3 linked regions of the Homo sapiens genome follow. The protein of the gene in region 2 interacts with the protein of the main gene of each other region in a biochemical or structural test. Each region holds a gene or a part of one and is shown on either strand. Other genes may lie near its edges. The genes, in order: SMURF2, RUNX2 and HIVEP3.

Evidence for each region.
Region 1: of the proteins of RUNX2 (region 2) and SMURF2, one has a biochemical effect on the other in vitro, tested with the Homo sapiens proteins (one study listed by BioGRID).
Region 3: the proteins of RUNX2 (region 2) and HIVEP3 form a complex in vitro, tested with the Homo sapiens proteins (one study listed by BioGRID).

Annotation. Positions count from the first base shown.
Region 1 is NC_000017.11:64,543,708-64,547,461, reverse strand, and holds part of SMURF2 (E3 ubiquitin-protein ligase SMURF2), read left to right. Parts: intron 1-1,123; coding exon 1,124-1,199; intron 1,200-1,514; coding exon 1,515-1,614; 3' UTR 1,615-3,754. UniProt on the Homo sapiens protein: E3 ubiquitin-protein ligase which accepts ubiquitin from an E2 ubiquitin-conjugating enzyme in the form of a thioester and then directly transfers the ubiquitin to targeted substrates.
Region 2 is NC_000006.12:45,326,393-45,330,146, reverse strand, and holds the start of RUNX2 (runt-related transcription factor 2), read right to left. Parts: upstream 1,818-3,754; 5' UTR 1,687-1,817; exon of another isoform or gene 1,652-1,686; intron 1,487-1,651; 5' UTR 1,421-1,486; coding exon 1,363-1,420; intron 1-1,362. UniProt on the Homo sapiens protein: Transcription factor involved in osteoblastic differentiation and skeletal morphogenesis. Essential for the maturation of osteoblasts and both intramembranous and endochondral ossification.
Region 3 is NC_000001.11:41,917,360-41,921,113, forward strand, and holds the start of HIVEP3 (transcription factor HIVEP3), read right to left. Parts: upstream 1,564-3,754; 5' UTR 1,054-1,563; intron 1-1,053.

The sequences.
Region 1 (3,754 bases), on a different chromosome or scaffold from region 2:
ACCTTCTTCTCCCTCCTTTCTTTTGTTCCCTTCCCAAGAGCCTTTTCTGCGGGCTTCTCTGATTGTAGTGAGTGCCGCATGCTAGAGACCGTACGTGGTGATGCTCTGCCTTTGTTTTCTGGTCACCTTACTTTTAATTCTGTTGCACATTCCTGTAGGGAAGTCGTTCACTTCCATGTTCACATCTTGACCTGGTGAAACGTTTACCTGCCTGGGATGCCTCTCCCCTCTACTTTTCGTTCTTTCTCTTATTAGACAGAAGCAGCATGGGTCATGGAAACCATCTGTTCGGTCAGAGCATTTTAATTACTGCATGGCATCAGACCATTTGTTTACAACCATATTCCTTTTTTAAGAATGGTTTTCTGTGGAATAAGCTGGTTAATTTTGGGAGGAGCTGGTAATATTGCTAATGATTGTGGTGCTTCACTGGGTGGCAGTTGCTTCCTTTACCTCTTAAGCACTTCATTTTCAAAGCTGCTGGTGATGAATAAGGACACACAAAGCGACACTGGTACATAATTCGACAGTGCTGCCCACAGCGCATGCGCTGAAATCCCTGGGGGGAGAGCGTGCTTTCAGCTGTGCTGCCCTTCTCTGTAAGGAGAGCTCCTCATCCTCACACTTCCCAGATGCATAAAGTGAAGTTGTATTTCTGCTACATGTATTTATATGGGGTGCCTGTGCGAACTGAAATGGATTCTATAGACGGCTCTTTTGCTGTCAGCCCAGTTTGAGTCATGAAATCTAAATTTGCATCAGGTCGTCATCTTTTTGAATGTGTGCCTATGTATTTTACCTTGGATTTGCCTGATTACTTTTCTTCTCATGCTTTTGGGATATTGACTTTCTATAAAAGATAGAAATTGAGAAAGGGATTTCAATCTTGAGTTTTTTCTCAAATGGAAATGTGAACCTATTACGGAATCTAAGCCTTATCCAAGGTTAATTCTGGCTCTTAAAACCCAGATGCTTTTCCTGCTGCCCTTTGGTAGTATGTGTGGATTCATTAGCATTCCCCTATCCCCAGATCCTGTGGTTAACTTACCAGTTTTATTCTTAAGATTTTGGAGACTAATGCACGCACCTGCAGTGATTTCATCCACATTTCCTTCATTTGCAGGTGCTGCAGGCCCGAGACTCTTTACCATACACCAGATTGATGCCTGCACTAACAACCTGCCGAAAGCCCACACTTGGTAAGGTATTTTTGTAGCTGTATTCCCCATTCCATGTACATAAGTGTTAGTTCCAAACAGATTTGACTTTTTATTTATTGTACTTACTAGTGTTAAATGGGCCTTTAAAGGGAATGATAAGCAACTTAAGTGATTTAAAAGTTAAGATTATTCGGAAATTGGTAGGAAAACCCAAAAGTGGTCATCTCTGTTTTAGAGAAATACCTTTTAGTTTTCTGTGTGACACAGAGTGATGTGGCTATACTGGTATACACTTGCTAGGCCAGTTTACTTATTTTGAATGAACTGTATAAAATTTGATTTGCTTATTCACAGCTTCAATCGAATAGACATTCCACCCTATGAAAGCTATGAAAAGCTATATGAAAAGCTGCTAACAGCCATTGAAGAAACATGTGGATTTGCTGTGGAATGACAAGCTTCAAGGATTTACCCAGGACTCTATTTATACAACCCTGACTGACAGCCTCCTTTCAGCAGAGTTTCAAAGAATATGCTGAAATACAGGAAAACACTCCCCCCCCCCCCCTTTTTTTTTTTTTTTTTACATTTTAGGACACTGTGAGGGGAAAGGACAATTTTGAAATTCCTTTTCAAGGAAAAAAAAGGTCTTTATGCTTTGCCATGAGGCCACATTCAGCTGCTATTTAAACTTAATATCTTGAACCTAAAGAATGCTGACTTTTCCTACATTTCCAGAGTTAGGCAGTATTCTACACTTAAAGACTACTACTATTTTTATAAAAGGTAATCTATTCAAATTTCTTCACAGATTTCAAGTCTCTCAAACATCAAGACAACTTCAGCAGTCGGTACAAGTCACATTTCATTTTGATTGAATACATGATCTTGAACAGCTCCTGTACTTGCTCTTTGTAAAAAAAAATAAAATTATTTTGAATTATTCTACCTTTGTAAACAATTGGCTAAAAGAATCATCTTTAAGAAATTAAGCCATTTACATGTTTGTGTTTTTCTATAGCAGAGCATTATATTTTGCATTATATGTTTCAACCTAGTCTAAGTGGGTCTTTTTTACATTTTTCAAGAACGGATTTCCTGGAATACAGCGATATAATTTTGGTTGTCAAATTCCTAATGCAACCATTTAGTCTAAACTTAGTCATTTATTTGTGACAATAAGATGTGTTCAGGGGCTCCCTGTTTTTAAGAGACTCTTTTAAAAAAAAAAAAACCTAATGTTTTTATCTTGAGTCAATATGATTAGGTATTTTGGATTTACTTTTAATCTTAAAATACTGCATTTTTATAGCTTCTCAGAGCATGTGGATGGGATGGGATTTTCGTTATTTTGCTGGGTCAGCTTATCTTTAATATATGGACTATTCCTATAAACCAAAGTCTCTGACAAGTGCACCTAATTTATATTGTATTTTAACTACAGTGTAAGTTTCCATTAACAAAACCATCCTAAAGCGTTAACTGCTCATAATTTTAATCAGCTACAGTTATGAAAAAGGAAGAATTTTGCTCTAAAGATTATTAATAAGCTTAGAAAATCCTGCTTTTACCTAACAGAATGAAGTGGGGTTGAGGGGCGGTAGTATGAACAGTGATTCTAACTCTATGGCGTAAATTACTTTGAAGAGTTCATTTTGGAAGTAAGGGAATCCCGCTTCCCTTGGTGTTGAAGATCTGCATCTGATTTTGAAACGTCCAGATTTAGCTTTCAAGGTGCGTGCATGTTGAATGATCCAGAAGCAACGAAAACTCTGGGGTGAGGGATTGAAAAAATCTGAAATCACAGTTGGATTTTTAAATTCAACCATCAAAAATATGTACTATCAGTTTTTTTTTACATTGATGTGAAATAAGCAAATTTTCATGATAATTAAGCTGCAAAATTTAAAGTTATCAAGTAAATAGGTCCTCTGTGTTCTGTTTCATGTGATGGAGTGGGTTTCAGTCTGTGTTCTTGGAGCCAAAGGGTTCCTCAGGGGTGCCTCAGGAGTAATGGTTTAAGAGAAGAGGGGCAATGAGAGGGAGCGAGGGGGAAGGCCTAGTTGGTATTTGAGCAGGGGCCTTAGGCTCCATATCCCCACCCCCTTTACCCAGAACAGCCCATTTTTCTTATGTATATTGGAATTTCAAGTAAGCTTTCATGGGGTGCAGTGGGGCGGGGAGGAATGGATGGGATAAAAAAAGTGGAGATTTTGCTGCTTTAAAAAAGTTGAGAACTACTTGTGTAGTTTTTAAGTATTTTAATGTATTTCATTTGGCCAAATTCAACTGCCACAAGCAAGCTAGTCATAGTTGTAACTGTGCAGTGGTAATATGCTTATGCCTACCTTTTTCCTCTCAAACAATTTGTTTTTTTTACATTGCATTCTGAGTACTGAAGAGCATCTTGAAATGTATGGAAGTGGTTTCTATGCTATTTGATAATCAGTAATGTTCAGCTGTCATGATAGTACTTTACTGGTTGCAGACCCATCTCTCTTTTATATTAAAGCACTAGTGCAGTTTATAATTGTGCCTACTTTTAAAATCTTTCAGTAAAAAAGTACATAATGAATACAGAAATCATAACTGAC
Region 2 (3,754 bases):
GTCACTAAAGCAATTTTACATTTTTTTTTGTAAAATACAAAGTACATTTCCTCACCCTGTAAGAGAAACCATTTTTTCTCCCTTCAGGTTTAATTATTTCTGTTTGACCTAAACTGAGACTGATCCTCTAGTAGTATCCAGTTAAAATGTGTGAAGTAGGAGGAGTAAAGGAAACTCCAGTCATTAGTTGTAAGTTAAAAGCAGAGTTAATATAGATGTACACAGCAAGAAGGTTTATTTTAATGGATATAAGAAAAATTTTTGAAAACTTGCCTTGTAGTTGGAACATGTTGGAGATCATAAAGAGAATCTTGTAAGTGTGTTTAGATATTTTGCTATAATAACACATCAGCTGATGAATGTTAAAGTCATTTACATATCTGTATCAACAGTAACTTGAAATTAAATATTAAGGGACAAGATTATGCCTACTTCTTTTAAAGTCCAGCATGGTTTAATAGTTGTGGCTTTTAAAAATCATACAGGGTATCCTTATGGAGCTTTATTTTTCATGAGACTAAACAGCAGTTATTCATTTTGGTAGGTCCAAGAATGTGATTAAAAGAATCTTAGACGTTTCAGTGTTTCAGTGTGTTTATAACAAGGTCTATGGATAACAGTGTGTAGATGTAAAATTAAAATTACATAGAAAAATGCAGTTGCATGTAAGTTTTAAAATACTTCCATGAACTTTTTAATATCCTGGGCAACTATAAAGATCTTTTAAAAATGGCTGTGATGTGCTTATCATAATTTTATTTCAGCTGAATGTATACTTATATAAAGTTGTTTAGAAACAAACTTATTTAGATAGGATACAGTTTGAATTTATAAGTAGATTTCTTTTAGTTGAGCTGGTTAAAATGTTAACTGTACTACAGGTTTATTTCTGTGTTATACATGGTAGACCATAATGTTGAGATAATTCTGTGGTCTGTTATTTTGTAAAATTGCTTCCTTTTTGAAGTTTGCTCAAATATTGGGAGCTGCCGGAGTCAATAATTTATAATGCTTTGATTAATTTAGGATCTGACTTTTCTTCTGGTGAGGGTTAATGAGAGTATTAAACTGTTTCTTTTACTGTTTTCATATCCTCACCTCTATAACTCTAGAAAACATTTTGATCAATGTGAGATAATTTAATTTTGTATATTTCAAGTCATTACTTTGAAAATTAGATACATTACAGATACCAAATGCAAATATATACAGAAATTTCATTTTTCAATTCTTAATGCAACAAGATAGCATAATTAGGATCTTTAATATGCTATTTGGAAAAGCTAGCAGTTTATCAAAGAATCATACCTTTATGTTTAACAGGTTCATATCTTACAGGATTTTAAAAATGGTAACACTTACCCCAAAAGAAGTTTTGCTGACATGGTGTCACTGTGCTGAAGAGGCTGTTTGATGCCATAGTCCCTCCTTTTTTTTTCAGATAGAACTTGTACCCTCTGTTGTAAATACTGCTTGCAGCCTTAAACTGAAAATACAAACCATACCCAAACCTTGTTTTAGTTTTACAGTATGCCTGGAGTACATAGACTTTATATTTATTTTTTTCTGTCAAGAAATTATGTAGCTGGTAACATGTGAAAAGCAAAGAAACAAAACAAAAAGAGAATGAGCAAATATTTGAAGGACCTACTATTACTGCATAGACTGTGGTTAGAGAGCACTCACTGACTCTGTTGGTCTCGGTGGCTGGTAGTGACCTGCGGAGATTAACCATTTAAAAACCAGAGACTTCTTGCTGTCCTCCTGGAGAAAGTTTGCACCGCACTTGTGGTTCTGTGGTTGTTTGTGAGGCGAATGAAGCATTCACACAATCCAAAAAAGCAAAAGCTTTAAAACTCCTTTTTTTTGCAAGCACTATTACTGGAGAGGCAGAATCATGTGGTTTGTGACCTCACAGTACTCTTAAGTAAAGTGGGACTGCCTACCACTGTGGCTTTTCCCCCTTGCTCTTTCTCTCTCTCTCTTTCTCTCACAAAAGGCTTGTGGTAAGGCCTTTCCTGGCATCCAGAAGGATATAGCTTTTTAATTTTTGTGACTCATGAGGATTTGGATAGAATACAAATGCTGAAGGAGCCCAAACTCCTGTAAGGTTAAGCATTTGTAGAGCAGAGCTCTGCAGTTAAGGGCTTTCCTTTCTACTCCCCGCTCAACCTCTGCCTTTTTGCCTCCTCTTTTTAGTTCATTATTGTGTCTGTGGAAAAATGAACAAAATTGGCTCAAGAGTCTGTGTGAAATTCTGAACAACAGTGATGATATACAATAATTCACATCTTTGGACTGTATCACATTCTGGGGTCTGCTTCATATTTGCTGGGTGGCTGGATTCCTTCTGTTTTCCTTTTTCTTGTCTTCTTAAACTTGTGAATCTGTAACTCATTGTAAAAAAAAAAAAAGTTTACCTTAAGGTCTGGTTGCAAACTGCTTGCTAGGCTTGACTATAATTGGCTGTCATGAAAGTGTTAGTCTGGGCATTCTTTTACAAATTTTAAATCACGTCTGTCTAGTTTATTATCAATCTATTAGATGGCGGCCTTTACAATAAAGATTAAATGTAATGTTTCATGTATACCATTATCTCATGCCTAGTTTGAAGATCTTAAAAAAATGAATGACAGGGATTGTAATATAGTTTATTGGATGAATCTTAGTTTTCTTTATGATTGTAATATTTTTTGTCTTTCATTGAAGTGTATTCAGTTTATATAGTTCTTTAAGTAGTTTAGACATTAATAGAGTTTCTGATAGCAGATCTTCTATAAAGTAAAATGCTTATGTTATAATGTAGATTGTTCAGTATTTGATTCTATGAGCTTAGAATAGAGTGGGTTAACAGAAGCTATGTATTTTTTTGTTTCTAATGGAAGCTTTGAAATAAATTACAAAATGCTGTGTGTAGTAAGGAATAATGCCCACAGACAGAGTATGTTAGTCGTCTCGATTTGCTAATTCTGATTCAGAAGAAAATTGGAAACATCTTTGGGAAACTATCTCCTTTTTTGCCCCTTTGGACAAGTATGTATAGAACTCATTTTCTTATTAGGATGATTATATATCATAGGCAGTGAATTTTATATTTATGAATAGAGCTTCCTGTTTTCATCAGTTGGGAGCGATGGAGTATTTTTCAACCAAAATTATAAAGGCGAACAGACCAATTTTCTAGGCATTTTTTTGCCATTTATCCATGCCACTCTAAATCTGCATGTTAGACTTCTTCCTAGTGTGACAGTAACTAGGAGTGGCATAAAGTAAATGGGGTGGGCGGAGACAGTGAATTACAAAAGATTATTTGGAATGTGCAGGGAGGTAAGGGCTAGGGAGACAGGAGGGTGTTAGAACTAAAATATCCCTGTGTTCTTCCTAGTGCTATTCATTATCTGCTTTTGGTTCATATTAGATCACAATAACTGTACAAATATGTTCATAAGTTTCTTTACAGAAAATTTGATTTTCCCAAAATACACTGGTAGGGTATGGGAATGATTCTAGTCCTTTATTTTTCAAATGTCCAGAACCTTTTCAGAATAAACTTTTAGTGATAAAAAACCAGAAATACATTTTGGTGTTTTATTTTAACTATGGATTTATCATGCCTTATTGTATGTGTAAACAGATTTTACATTGAAAGGTAAAAGCGTTCATTTAACATGCAGTTATTCATGTGAAGGAGAGAAAAATTATTTTTTCTCTTTTATAAATAAGTCGTATCCATATTATCTGTATCTCTAATTAG
Region 3 (3,754 bases), on a different chromosome or scaffold from region 2:
AGCCAGTGGGCACCTGGCTGCTGTGGTTACAATGCCAAGGGCTACCAGAAACGTCAGCGTATACCAGAAAGAGGGCCAGGGTGCTGCTCACCCAGCGACCAGATCTGCAGACCCTCTTCCTGCAACCACTGCCCCCGAAGTTCAAGGAAGGGCCTAGCCACAGAAATATTCCTGACCTGCAACAGAAACCAAACCAGCTACGTTAAAGGAAACCAATGCCGAGCCTCCAAGTTCCTCTGCACCACTGCCACACTCAGGAGTCCTCAGCAGCCTGGACAATATCATTAGGGACCATTCGGCACCATCAGTGTTTCCATTTAAAAGATAGTAAAATGTGGGGCATAACTTGGAGGGGACACTCTCTCTGCTAGCAGGGAGGCAAGAATCCCCTATAGAATAGGAGTTTGGTTTGGGTTTGGTTGGGTCAGGTTGGGGGTTGGGAAATGATTTTGCTTTAGGAATATTTTCAGGGGGCTAGGATTAAGGGGGAAAAAGAAAGCTATCCCCTCTGTCTCAGCAGCCAGCATCATACGAATCTCACTCTCAACCAAGCAGGCTACTGCAGTCCGCCTAAACAATCCGGAGCAGCAGCCAAGGCAGCACAAGAAAACGCCGGTGCCACGGAACGCGATGCCTAAGCCCCCCAGCCGAGGCTCCTATGGAGCCGGCCGCCAGTGCGCGGGTGCAGAGCCCAGCAGAGCCTGCTGCAAGCAGCGCTGGAGCGCACGGCGCGCATAGGGTTACAGCCCCGCCGCCGCCGCCGCCGCCGCCGCCTGTGATTGACGCGCGGGGGTCACTTGAGGCTCGCGCCGCTCCCCAGCACCAGGCCGAGCAGCGCGCTCAGCCCACCGGGGGCACTGGCCGCCACGCGCAGCCCACCCGGCCGGCCCCTGCGTCTCGGCAGCCGGACACCTTGCCTAAGAAAGGCATACACAAAATGGAATCGCAGCTCGCTATTCTGCTTCGCGGTGCGGCCTCAGGCAAAAACACAATCACAAGGTAAAATACAGCGCAAGGAATCCATCCGCCGAATAAAAACCCAGAGTCCCCTACCTTCGGCCTTGGGATGGCAAACTGGTCCTGTGTTCTCTGACCCACGGATCCAGCCCCTTCTTCATGAATTATTCCGGCCAGGCAGGATTTTGTGCATTTTTTTCATGAACACCTGTTTCAAGTAAGGGGTAAAGACCTTATTGAAAGAATTGTCCTTAAAAAATAACCTGTGCATACGTATGTCCATCCAGGCATGCATGCGTGTTTGTATACACACATATGCACACGGAATAGCCATGTACATTGAAGCACCAAACTAGGCAGCTGGATAATGGGAGAGTCGGCTGGTTGTGAGCATGCTCGCGCCGGGAACAGATCCACCCTCTGTTATTCCTCTGAATAAATATAAATCACGATCAGAAACCCAAACAGAAGCATCCCTCTTGAATTCGTGCTGCTGAAAAACACGGAATAAATTCAGCCTGCAGACACAGAATCTAATCAGCAGCTGTTTTCTGAATCCAGAGCCAACCCATGCCTCGCTTGTCTTTTCCACTAGGAGTCCAGACCTTTTTTGAAAGGGGGTTTAACCTTTTAAAGACACAGTACACCAATTATCACTTCGGAATAGCTGTCACTCCCAGCGCAGGAAGCCAGTCCCATGCCTAAAGGCACAGTAGGCTTGCACACAGTGATAAGGATTTCATTTATTGGTGCTTTTTAAAAAACAACATATATGTATAATATATGTGCATATATATGCACATATATATGCACACATATTATATATATATACGTGGAGAGAAAAAATGCAAATGCAAGTCATAAATATTTATTGCACTGATGAGCTTCTCAGTACTAATTGGCACGTTATGTAAACACTATGATCCTTCACTTCTGAACACCCATGTTCACGGGTCAGACGAGACAGGGCACTCTTGTCAGCAAGCGTGTCACACCTCACCAGCCTCTGGCTGCAGATCAGGGGCCGGGGAGCCTCAACAGTGCCTGAAGGGAGTGGGGTCTCTGCACCTGAGAGCTCAACACGGGCACTCCTTGCCCTGCCCTGCCTTGCTCTGCAGTCTCAGGGTCCATGTCCACAAATCAAAGAATAGTTCTGGCACTATTTCTAAAGTCGAACATAATCCAGAGCCACATCGCATTCCAAGACATACTTTCTTTCAACCAGAATCAGGAATCAGAACTACCACCTGAACCTTAGTTAGAGTCTTTACGATTCAGACTTAGGCCCTTCTTCAAGATTTTGTTATTGAGTTCTGTTGTTTTGTTTTTCACTTTTCTTTTAAGGGTCAGCATGGAGGTATGGAGGTAGAAAAACAGGGTAGGGGGAGAGACAACCTCCAGCCTAAATTTTTTTGAAAAAAATTATTCTTCGAGTACTTCAGCCACCCAGATGGTGTTTACTGCAGTTTTGTTCTGGCTTTTAAAGAGGTAGCGCTGAGAAGAAACAAGAGTCCTAACCTTGCTCACGTGTGTTAAGAAGGCAAATGTCTTTGACAGTTTCTTTTTCACCCCAGCCCCAGAGCTCCAGCATGGCGCTGTCTGCTCCTCCGCTGGTTCCCGCCTAAGAGCAGCGGCAGTGGCTCACCTCGGGAGCTACAGGGGCGCTCCTACAGCCGCTCCAGCATCACAGCCCATTCCCTCCCTTGCCTAGTCCTGCCAGGCAAACCGTGAAAACAAGTGCACTGTCACCCTCCCACCTCATCACAGGCGCTCCTGTGTGGACCCCTCCCAGCGACACACACACACTCTCTTCCTTCCCCTCTTCCAGGGCCCTTTGGCAGAAAATTATCATATTTCATGTGTCATCGCCCAAGCAAGCTGGGTCCATCACTGATTGGCTGGGCCCTGGCAGCCGGAAATGTCACCAGCCACACAGCGTGGAGCTGGCTCTCCCGCGGCCACCACAGACCTGAGCCCAGGAGGCTCTGTGACAAGGCACAGACCTACCACAGAGAGCCTGTCACTCTCTCCCTGGTCCAGCCCCTGCCCCCTGCTTCTCCATCTACCCAGCCCCCCGGGGAATAGGGGCTGCGAGGGGATGGTGAAGGAGTCTCAGTGACATTCCTATTTTCCCAGCATGTTTGAGAAGAAACTAAAGATGTCTCCAATCAGGTTTATAAATTTGGAGAACTTGTTTTTGACAAAAACATTCTGTCTTCACACTAAAAAAAAATCAGTAAGACTGGGTGAAAACAAGATGGTTTTTTTTTTTTTGTTTTGTTTTTTACCCCAGGAGAGTTTACTAGATGCTGCTGTTTATTTCCCATCTAACATCTCAGGCACCAAGGTATAATCATGTCACAGGGCTGTCCGATAATTCAGAAGGTGATTCGAGTCCATCCTCTTACCTTTAAAGAGAACAGCTCCAGAAAATGAGGCTTTGTAACTTGGCTTTGCAATGTATCATGATGCCACACAACTTTTTAAGGGTTAAATGATCTTTGTAGTGACCAACATGAATCACTTCAGCTGTAATTTAATCTTAGTCCCTCCTGCTGTATCTTCAGCAGGCTTAGTGTGACTCACCATTTAAGTCTCACCTTATTCTGTTCTCCTGAGTAAACTAAACTCTATCTCTCTGTCCTTTTCAGTAAAAGTTTTTCTCAACCCTTTAATTATGCTGCTTTAAAGAAAAAGCCTCCCAGAGTTACATGAGTCTGGAAGGTCATTTGGTCCATCTATCCATATGATGTGTCAGAACTCTCCACTATTTCCATACGGGGGCTTTTGGTTTGGG